Regions from separate parts of the Homo sapiens genome. Here region 2 is linked to region 1. The links come from fine-mapping of genetic effects on gene expression. A gene starts in region 1. The other region holds a variant in brackets. All regions are shown on one strand. Distances are from middle to middle.

Evidence for each region. PIP is the estimated chance that this variant, and not a neighbour inherited with it, causes the effect.
Region 2: its variant is fine-mapped to the expression of FAM161A in unexposed skin (GTEx, PIP above 0.99). The same link has a PIP of 0.9 or more in pituitary.

What each region holds. Positions count from the first base shown.
Region 1 is chr2:61,851,521-61,857,053 of GRCh38, reverse strand. FAM161A (FAM161 centrosomal protein A) reads left to right here and starts at 2,994. Exons shown (of 7, transcript NM_001201543.2): 1 at 2,994-3,195. The coding sequence starts at 3,013. It also overlaps the pseudogene RPL31P30. RefSeq lists enhancers at 1,801-1,850, 2,591-2,820, 3,061-3,220, 3,381-3,510.
Region 2 is chr2:61,966,363-61,971,362 of GRCh38, reverse strand. All of the region lies in intron 1 of COMMD1 (copper metabolism domain containing 1), which reads right to left. Among named protein-coding and RNA genes, the nearest start is that of COMMD1, 63 kb to the right of the region's middle. The variant A/C (reference allele first, on the strand shown) is at 2,220.

The sequences.
Region 1 (5,533 bases):
ATCCACACTGACTATCTAGATTTTTGAAAGTGGTAACAGGTATACAGGTAACCACAGTATTGAGCTTGTTTGGTGAATTTTCATCCTTGTTATGTTTTCTGAACAATCGCACATGTACATGGTGTGGGACATTCCTTATTCCTTTGGCCCTGATAGCCTTGTTAAGCCTGGTATCAATGCACACATCTGGAGTGCCCATCTTCATGGCAAATTTCTGAATCTCTTTGAATGCCCACAGAGCATGCTTCTTGAAGCCCACTCCATGGATGTGAGCTAGTGACCCAAGTGTGTTCTTGGGTCACTACCTTGTTGATGGCAGAACAGCTCATCTTCTTGCCACCCTTCTTTGCAGGAGCCATTCTGCCAGGCCCAAGATGGAAAGGAAGAACATGAGGGACGGTGGGAGAAAGAAGGCCTAAACTTTTAAAAAGTGGCTGCACCATTTTACATTTAAGACATTTTGACACATTGTATTTTTGTTGTTATTTGACTCTCTAGATAATTTCTGCCATGACTTTTTCTGTAATGCACAAATTGTTTTTTGAAGAGTTTTAAATTTCCCAACTAAAAAGGCTTTTCTAGTTATTTTTCTTTTATAATGTCTAACTTGGCTGGGCGTGGTGGCTCATATCTGTAATCCCAGTGCTTTGGGAGGCCAAAGCAGGCGGATCACCTGAGGTCAGGATTTTAAGACCAGCCTGGTCAACATGGTGAAACCCTGCCCTCTACTAAAAATACAACATTTGCTAGGCGTGTTGGCAGGCACCTGTAGTCCCAGCTATTCGGGAGGTTGAGGCAGGAGAATCGCTTGAACCTGGGAGGCGGAAGTTGCAGTGAGCCGAGATCACGTCACTGCACTCCAGCCTGGGTGACAAGGAGACTCCATCTTAAAAAAAAAAAAATTGTTTTGTTAATTACAATAAATTATGTCAAAAACAAAGATAATTTCTTAAAACTCTTCACTTTCTTTTATGTTCCTTGCATCTACTGTATCTGTATGGTGGAAATACTATATAATGGTGTGCTACTAGACATCTTTTCTCAAATTCTTATTAAGTGATGTCACATTGGTGGCTTGAAATTGGCTATGATGGGAATATTGACATCATGGAAATCAGCAAAAGCTAAACATTGGACATTTAAACTTAAGAAACGGATGTGGAAAATATTAATGCAGAGTAAACTTAAAAGTTTGTGTTATCTGTAGCCTTTACATTGTGACTTGCAGAAAAAATTAAGAAAAATTATTCCAGTGTTAGAAAATGATTATCTATTTCAGCAAAGAAGTTGCTCATAACATTGACAAGTGAAATTCTGACATAGATCTTGGATATGTCACTCTCATCTTAATCACAAATAAAAACAAAAATATTAACCAACATTCATGTTGGAACTAGGTTGTTAAACAATTGCAACCATAAGTTGGCCACAAATACAGGAGTACAGCATAAACCAACGAAAGCATTCTGAGAGAAGCAATTGTCTATGAGGAATTTACAGTAAAGAGAATAGGATATTTCATTATTTATAATTCATCTGCTATAATTCCTTATCAATACTTTTGTTGGTGGTGGTGGTGGTGAGACGGAGTCTTGCTTTATTGCCCAGGCTGGAGTGCAGTGGCGCCATCCCGGCTCACTGCAACCTCCGCCTCCCGGGAGTGCGCCTGTAATCCCAGCTACTCCGGAGGCTGAGGCAGTTTTGTAGCCACAAAACTGGCTGCCGTGTCTGACTGGAAATTGCTCCCCTGGAAACTTGGCCACACCTGGCGGTGCATATCTCATGGTTCTGGCTCTGGCTTCTGCTTAGAACCCAGTCAGCATCTGTTCCAGCATGGGAAGCAACTGTTCAGCTAAAACCAAGAGCAGCCTGAAGGAAGTGGGGACGTAGGAGACTTTGTAGGTGCTCACACCCAGACAGGAGAACAAAGGTTTGGTAAGGGCTCAGACCTTAGAGACGGGTTCTCGACGATGTGCAGCGCATAACGAGGAAAATACTGACCGGAGGGGGCCGGTCGTAGGGCTGGGGAGCAGGAGGAGGGCAAAGGATAGAGAGGGGGTAGATAGGGAGTAGATAGGGGGCGGCAGCCTCGGCCTCAGTAAGCAGGGGCTCAGGGAGCAGATGTCTGAGACTGCACCACGTCCGCTATTTTGAGGTTTGGCTTCTCTTACTGCCACGTGGTGCAGAGGGAAGGCGCCATTTGATGCGTCCAAATCCCGAGTGGGAAGAGAAGATACGGATGAGGGAGATGGATGTGTCTGTGGTGACTCTTGGGCACTTGTGCCGTTCAATCCTGTCACTCTCAAGCTGAAGAACCCAAAGCAAACGCCAGGTTTACAATACCTGCACTATCACTCATTAGTGGGAGGGTCAGGCGCCACCCAACTCTGGGCTTTTATTGGTCATGTCAAGAAAAAAGCGAGAGGGACAACTGGGAGCCTCCTTCTGATTGGTGGATTCCTGCTAGCCCTCAAGTCAATCAGAGTAGAATGTACCGCCCTCCTTCCCACTCTGGCCCCCGCGGGAGACATGTTAGGTAGCGGGACGCCAACCTTGTCACTCTTCTGAGACCGCCACCCAGTAACACGCCCTGCTTTCCTCCGCCGCCGCCGTCTCCTCCATCAACTGTCTCCTTCTAACATGTTATTGCAGTTAATAAAAAAGCGTTCTTTTCTTCACAAAAGCAGTTGTTTCATTGTATAATGTGAGAAGTCTGCGTTCAGGCGGTTAGACGCAAAGGAGTGGAATAAGTGCCCTGTTCAGCCTGCCAACCTTCGGAACCAGCCAACAGACTCGGTACTGACTGCCATGATCCAGTAAGCACCCGACTCGGGTCTCTGGCAGCCTGAGTGGATTTTGCGTGACTTTTGGTCCCTGGCGGCTCCTGTAGCGTCCCCAGTTACGGCGCCCATAGCAACCGGCTCCCTAGCTAGGCGCCCCCGGGTTGCCAGGGGCCGCACCAGCTTTCCCGTCCCGGGCCAGCGCAGGCGCTCAGGCCTCGGAGGCGGGGCGATGGCCACCTCCCACCGAGTGGCGAAGCTGGTGGCCTCCAGTCTCCAGACCCCGGTAAATCCCATCACTGGAGCGCGGGTCGCCCAGTACGAACGCGAAGACCCCTTAAAGGCCCTGGCGGCAGCGGAGGCGATCTTGGAGGACGAAGAGGAGGAGAAAGTGGCTCAGCCCGCTGGGGCATCGGTAATACTGGGGCGGGACTTGGGCTGGGACCTCGCATGGGCTGGGTGCAGGCTGAGGGCTGTCCGGTTCCCCGCCCAGCTGAGGGCAGGCTGGTAAACGCGGGTCCCTGTGCACATAGTCCCTACTTGGTGGTCCTGGCCCAGCCCCTTCTCTACGCTCACGAAAATTACTCTAAATCGAGGCGTTGAAAAGTGTTTTAATTTTCACCAGTCTGTTGTAAAAGCTTCCTAGACAACATTTATGTTACTCTGCTTCTGGCAAGTGCAAAGTATAGAATTTTACTCTCTACTCTCCAGCATCTCGGGAATGGATATATAGAGATATATCTGGCTATATATAGTAATTTGAGGAAAACTGTTCTGTCAGGTGTGTTTCGTTATTACCTTAAGATCTTGGTTATAAGCGGATCTCAACATAGTGCTCTAAAGATGTGTGTTTAAAACCATCACGTGTTCACTGGCTAAATCAGACACGGATACAGATAAGCAAATCACTGAGGTTTCAGTGTTTCCTAAACAGCTCTTTAGGGTACAGCGAGACGGCCTTTTCACTGATCAGTTTTCATTGTTAAATCTGTTGTGGACACCAGTCCAGCAGGTAGAGGGCAGGGTCTGCCATCTGCTCAATTCACTTAAAAGATGGGAATCTTGGCCGGGCGCGGTGGCTCGTGCCTATAATCCCAGCACTTTGGGAGGCCGAGGTGGGCGGGTTACGAGGTCAGGAGTTCGAGACCAGCCTGACCAACATGGTGAAACCCCGTCTGTACTAAAAATACAAAATTTAGCCGGGCGTGGTGGTGCGCCCCTGTAATCCTAGTTACTCGGAAGGCTGAGGCAGGAGAATCGCTTGAACTTGGGAGGTGAGGGTTGCAGTGAGCTGAGATCTCAGACCCAGTCTCAAAAAAAAAAAAAAAAAAAAAAGATGGGAATCTTGAATTTAAACTAGCAATCTGCAGATAGAAAAAATTTCCTAATACCATGTGTCCAAAGCTTCTCAGACACCAAACTTATGATTGAGGACTAACTGAAATCACTGGATATTTTGGAATTCTGATCTCTTTAATCTACAGTAAAATTGTTAATGAGAACATCTTTAGCAACACCTTTTGTGACCAATCTTTCACCAACAGACAAACAACTTGAAGTTATCCAGAGTAAGGCAGACTGAGACCCTGAACATGAACCAGGATCAGAGTGCTAGGACCGATTTTGTTCATGATGAAGCTACCCCTCAACACAATTTTCAGTAGGCAACAAGGCAACGTGATGGAGAAAAAGGATTGAAGAGTTCTGTATTAGGATCCATTCCCTGCCACTTCCTAGGTGGTGTTAGGACATAATTTCCTTAAACCTCAGTTTCCTTATCTGTAAAATAACTATAATAATTGTCTCTTTTTTCCCATCTCAGCTCTATGAGAACCAAATGAAAGAATGTGTGTCTCCTCTAAAGAGCAATCTATGTAAATGAGTTGCCAGTGGGAGTGTCATTTGTGTGCCTTCCCAAAGATTAAACTCAACTTTGGCTTGCTGTGGTAAAGGAGTCAGTCACTTCTAAGTTGCAGATATGCTTCCACAGTGCCCTGTTAAACTGCAAATTTGTGTTAGAAACTGTTATTACCTTAGGAGGGATCAGTTTATACAATAATCTAGTTTGGAAAGGACAGGATCCTACAAAAAAAAAAAGGAAGCCAAGTCTTAAGAGTTTGGTACTGTTCTGAGACCACCACACATGAGGGATCCAAAAGTAAAGCTGGGTAAGCTGCCACAGTGGGCCTGATAGCCAGGGGGCACAGGCTGGGGGAAGAGGCATTAAGAAGGCAGGAAGAGTGCAGGAAATAGGCTCTGCTTTCTTCACTGGTTGGCTTGGGTCTCCATCTTGATTTTTAAAGGTTAATTTGCCTTAACCTTATTATCTATAAAATGTAGTAAAGTCAAATATTATACCTAACCCACAAGATTGATTTGAGAACCACCCATCACAATAGGCCTCTTTCAGCTCTTTGGTTTTGCCAAAGCCAGACCACTCATCCCACCCCACACTGCCCCCCAACCCCCCAACCCCTGCACCATCCCTATACACCCTCCCAGCTCTGGCATACACACGCACCCCCCTTGCAGTGCCCATATTGGGCACTGATGCCTGTTCCTTGAATCTAGCCTTAGTCAGAGATGTTGGTCCACATATCCTGTTATATGACTGATGATGACACAGGTAACGCAGTATTCTGTAATTCGCAATTAAAATCTCACTCCTCCCAGCACTTTGGGAGGCTGAGGCAGGTAGATCACTTGAGGTCAGGAGTTTGAGGCCAGCCTGGCCAACATGGCAAAACCCGGTC
Region 2 (5,000 bases), 110 kb before region 1:
TTAAAAAATCAAACGTTTAGCCAACCGGGATTAGTTTAGATTGTACAACCCAACCGTAGCAAATGAGGAAAGGGTGCAGGGGCAGGACTTGCATCAGGAATAAAGGCTCTCACGCCCCTTTATTCAGGTGTGCTCTCACGGCAACCAGCCAAGGAGGCACCCCTCTGCGCAGAAGTAAAATTGTTTTGCTAAAAATCCTTTGTTCGAGTGTTCAATTTCCTTAGGATTTTGAGCGCTATCCCTAACAACAATATAGCAAAACTCTGTCTTTACAAAAAATGCAAAAATTAGCCGGGCATGGCGGCACATGCTTGTAGTCCCAGCTACTCCGGAGGCTGAGGTGGAAGGATTGCTTGAGCCCAGGAGACAGGGGGCCACAGTGAGCAGTGATCGCACCACTGTACTGAAGCCTGGGCAACAGGGACCCTGTCAGAAACAGACAAACAAAAAAAACAAATACTGGGGACATGAATTCTATGACCAAATATAACAGATAAATTAATGCAGCCTAATAACTTGCAACTCTTTTTTAACAAACTAGATAAAATATTGTCAAGGAAATAACTTCTAGAATATCTTATTGATCCAAATACAAGACAACCTGGAGTTTAAGTAATCCAATTTTTCCAAGAAAGAAAAAAAATTAATCATAGGAAATATTCTTTATCATGGTATTTCTAGTAAGTCATATACAGTTGGCCCTCTGCATCTGTGAATTCCACATCTAGGAATTCAACCATCTGAGGGCCAAATATTCAAAATAAAAATCTGTGTCTATAATAAACATGTACCAAACTTTTTTTTATCATTATTCCCTAAACAATACAGTATAACAAGTACTTATGTAGCATTTGTTGTTTTACGTATTATAAGTAATCTAGAGATTATTTAAAGTATATGGGAGAGTGTATTTTGGTTATATGCAAATACCACACTATTTTATATCAGAGACTTGAGCATCTGAGGATTTTCGAGATCCTAGAACTAATTCCCCATGGACACCAAGGGACAACTGTATATCCTTTTTAATAATTTTTTAAAATGCAGAAAACTCTTATCCACAAATAATATATTTATCATTATTCTTTTTTTTTTTTTTTGAGGTGGAGTTTCCCTCTTGTTGCCCAGGCTGGATGGAATGCAGCGGTGTGATCTCAGCTCACTGAGACCTCCACCTCCCAGGTTCAAGCGATTCCCCTGCCTCAGTCTCCCAAGTAGCTAAGATTACACGCGCCCACCACCACACCCAGCTAATTTTTTGTATTTTTACTAGAGATGGGGTTTCATCATATTGGCCAGGCTGGTCTCGAACTCCTGACCTCAGGTGATCCACCTACCTTGGCCTCCCAGAGTGCTGGGATTACAGGTGTGAGCCACTGTGCCCAGCGCTATGATTATTCTCATTCTGCTTGGAAATAACTCTTTTTCCACTTACATCGGAGGTTTTTAATATTGCAAGAAAAAAAACATATTGCTGGATTGTACCAAGGAAGTTGTTTGAATAAAGGATAGTTATTTCTTCAGTGACTAAGTTATAGCCAGGAAGAAAGAATGACTGGAAATTCAATACTACAATACCTGAGACATAAATATTTGCTTCTCCAGTCACTTAATGGGAACCAGTAATTAAGAATATCAGAAAGCTATGCACTTCTCCAATTTCCATCAAGTAAGTGAACTGGAACACATCACACAGATTTAAATTAATCATCACTTATGAAGAAAACAGACTGACAAGCACATAAAGCTACCAAGAACTAACAACAGTTCAATTACCACAAAAAATACTCACAGTAACCAAAAACAAATCTGTACTTGTCAACAGTTCTGTCAAGTTTCCAAGAACGTGCTATGTCATAATGTGTAGATGTGTTCTTTAGTGGAGCTTATAAAATATACAACACTGCCAAGTTGAAAGCACAATTAAATTAAGACCTTGAGAAAGTAAAAGCAATTTGCCTCTGGTGACTATTGTTAGTAATGAGTCTTAAAGAGAATGTTTTTTTAATCCTGATTTATGCCATCAGAATTTCTTCCTCGAAAAATATAAATTTATATAATTAAAGATCAAATGCCACGTCAAAAAAACTTGTATTTCTATAGCCTGCAGAATAAAAATTACATAATGATCTAAAGCAAGTGAAACTGTCCAAAAGAGTTTAGGTAAATAAGTATTTTATAAAGCTCTTAAACATTTTCTTGTTTGAAAACAAACAAAC[A/C]AAAAAAACCTACATATAAAAGCCAGATGTGGTGGTGTGCACCTGTAGTCCCAGCTGCTCAGGAGGCTGAGGCAGGAGAATCACTTGAGCCCAGGAGTTCAAGGCCACGGTGTGCCATGATTGTGCCTATGAATACCCATTGCACTCTATCCTGGGCAACACAGCAAGATCCTGTCTTTAAAAAAAAAAAAAAAAAAAGACTAAATAAAGATTTCCCTTGAAACTGGTTTCGTTACTGAGAATCAAATCTCAAATTGTTTATGCCATTATTTTAAGTAAAAACTGAGGCCAGGCACGGTGGTTCATGCCTGTAATCCCAGCACTTTGTGAAGCAGAGGCAAATGGACTGCTTGAGCTCAGGAATTTGAAACCAGCCTGGGCAACATGGAGAAATCTCAACTATATAAAAAATACAAAAAATGAGCCAGGCATGGTGGCATGCACCTGTGGTGACAACTACTGGAAAGGCTGAGGTAGGAGGATCACTTGAGCCCAGAAGGCCAAGGCTGCAGTGAGCCAAAATTATACCATGGGACTCCAGCCCAGCAACAGAGTGATACCCTCCCTCCCTCCCCTCCATCAAGAAAAGGAAAATGGTCCAAAACTCTAAGTAGATATAGTCCAAAAAGAAAAGCAAACTGATTTTGTCCTTTCTTTTCACCTTCAGTAAATTTGTGAAATGTGATTTACTGTACAATTAATTATAGTATGGTTTTACTGTTTCAAATGTATTCTCTGGGCTTCAATTTCCCTAAAATTAAGCAAAGAGAATTTGCTATATGAGCTGCATGTGCCCCCAAGTAATTACATTCCATATTGCTATATCTGTAGGTTGAGCCATATAAATACAACAGTATTCAACTGTTTTGGACTCACAAGTATGCTAATTTCAAATGGTTCAACCTTACTAAATCTCTTAAATTTTATTTTCCCCTATAGACTATGTTTGGCACCAAGCGGCTTTTGTTTTCTTTTTTTTTTCTGAGAGGGAGTCTCACTGTGTCACCCAGGCAGGAGTGCAGTGGCACAATCTTGGCTCACTGCAACCTCTGCCTCCTGGGTTCAAGCAGTTCTCCTGCCTCAGCCTCCCAAGTAGCTGGGATTACAGGCACACGCCACCACGCCCGGCTAATTTTTGTATTTTTAGTAGAGATAGGGTTTCATTGTGTTGGCCAGGCTGGTCTCGAACTCCTGACCTCAGATGATCTGCCAGCCTTGGCCTTCCAAAGTGCTGGGATTATAGGCATGAGCCACCACACCCAGCCTATTTTCTTAAAATAGAGCAAAATGTTTAACATTATTATGAAAGCCAGTGATGAGAGCCAGTTCTCAATTGACATTCAGGACTGAATACACTTTATCAGACATTTTTTAAAGCAAAGAAAAAGATGATACTCTGATATGGAAACCCTCCTAAATTACTATTAATATTTCACAATTCATATTTTGGAATACTCGCAGAATTTGTACTAGCCCATTCAGCTTTATGATCCCACTTATTATCAGCTTATAGTCTGTGGCCTAAGTTATAGTTTTCACCACCTGCCTACTATGTATCAGGCCCTGTCCCAATCCTTCAAATAAGATGAACAGCATATGGACCTGCTTTTGAAGAGCTTTCAATCTGGTTATGTAAACAAGAGCTCAACATCCTTGGCTTTCCTGATTTGCTAGAAAATCTAGAGCAATGCTACCCAAAGTATGGTCTACATATCAGTGCCAGACCACAAACTTCACTACCAGTCCACCATGAGGTAATTATACAAACTGAAAGTAAATATTTAGAAACTTTCATGGAAAAATGACTATTTTTATGTCAATTAACCTAATAAAATAATCGGATTGTATGTTTTTATGTATTTTTGGTGAGGAATTGAACATTTTTTTAAAAAACAAAACTGGTCCTCAACAGACTGCTTCTTAAATGTAAGAAGCACTGCTGTGAAGGTAGACAGATTGGACAGTTCTGCTATCTTTGCAACTTAGCTCTTCTGCATTTGAAAGTTAAAATATTCGTTTCATATTAGACTTCATCAACTGGCCCCATTTCCACTATAATAAAGATCCTGGTTACATTTGATAAGGGAAAAAGGACACCAAGAAGAAAATAAGATGCTGGCTATGGAAGTCAGGAAGATAAAAGTTACTAAAAATAAGAAAAGAGAAAAAATGTTACTGCTCTTCATGGAAGAGAAAGGAAAATACTTCAAGTTGACGGTAAATTTTTAAAAACCACTGTTGTGTATGCCCGGGTCTTCTTAGATAAATAGAAGCCTTATTATTTTATCACAGGTGGCAAAAACAGGACTAATTACACAGACTTTTAATTTCCCAACTTACATTTAACAATTAAATCTTTTAATTTCCCAACTTACATTTAACAATTTTCAATTTAACAATTTGAAAATACCAAGAGAAGGAAACTGTAGCCAAAAGAAGAGTTATGGAGTAGATAGGCAACTTCATTTCTCACAAGTCTGTGTAATTAGTCCTCTTTTTGCCACCTGTGATAAAATAATAAGGCTTCTATTTATCTGATGACCTAGGACATTACTAGAGCCTTTATACATGAAGTCCAACTTTGTTTCATTTGGCACAGCTAAAAATAGAAGTGAAATGAAATACATTTTAAAGGCAAATTCATATTTCCTATTATTAGATTTAATATACAACCAACTAGTGTTTCAATTGGGTATTACTGCCATATTCTGCATGCTAATTTAACAAATTTACATATTTTAAAAAAAAGAAATTTATTTGGTTTCGTAAGTAAAATCTGGC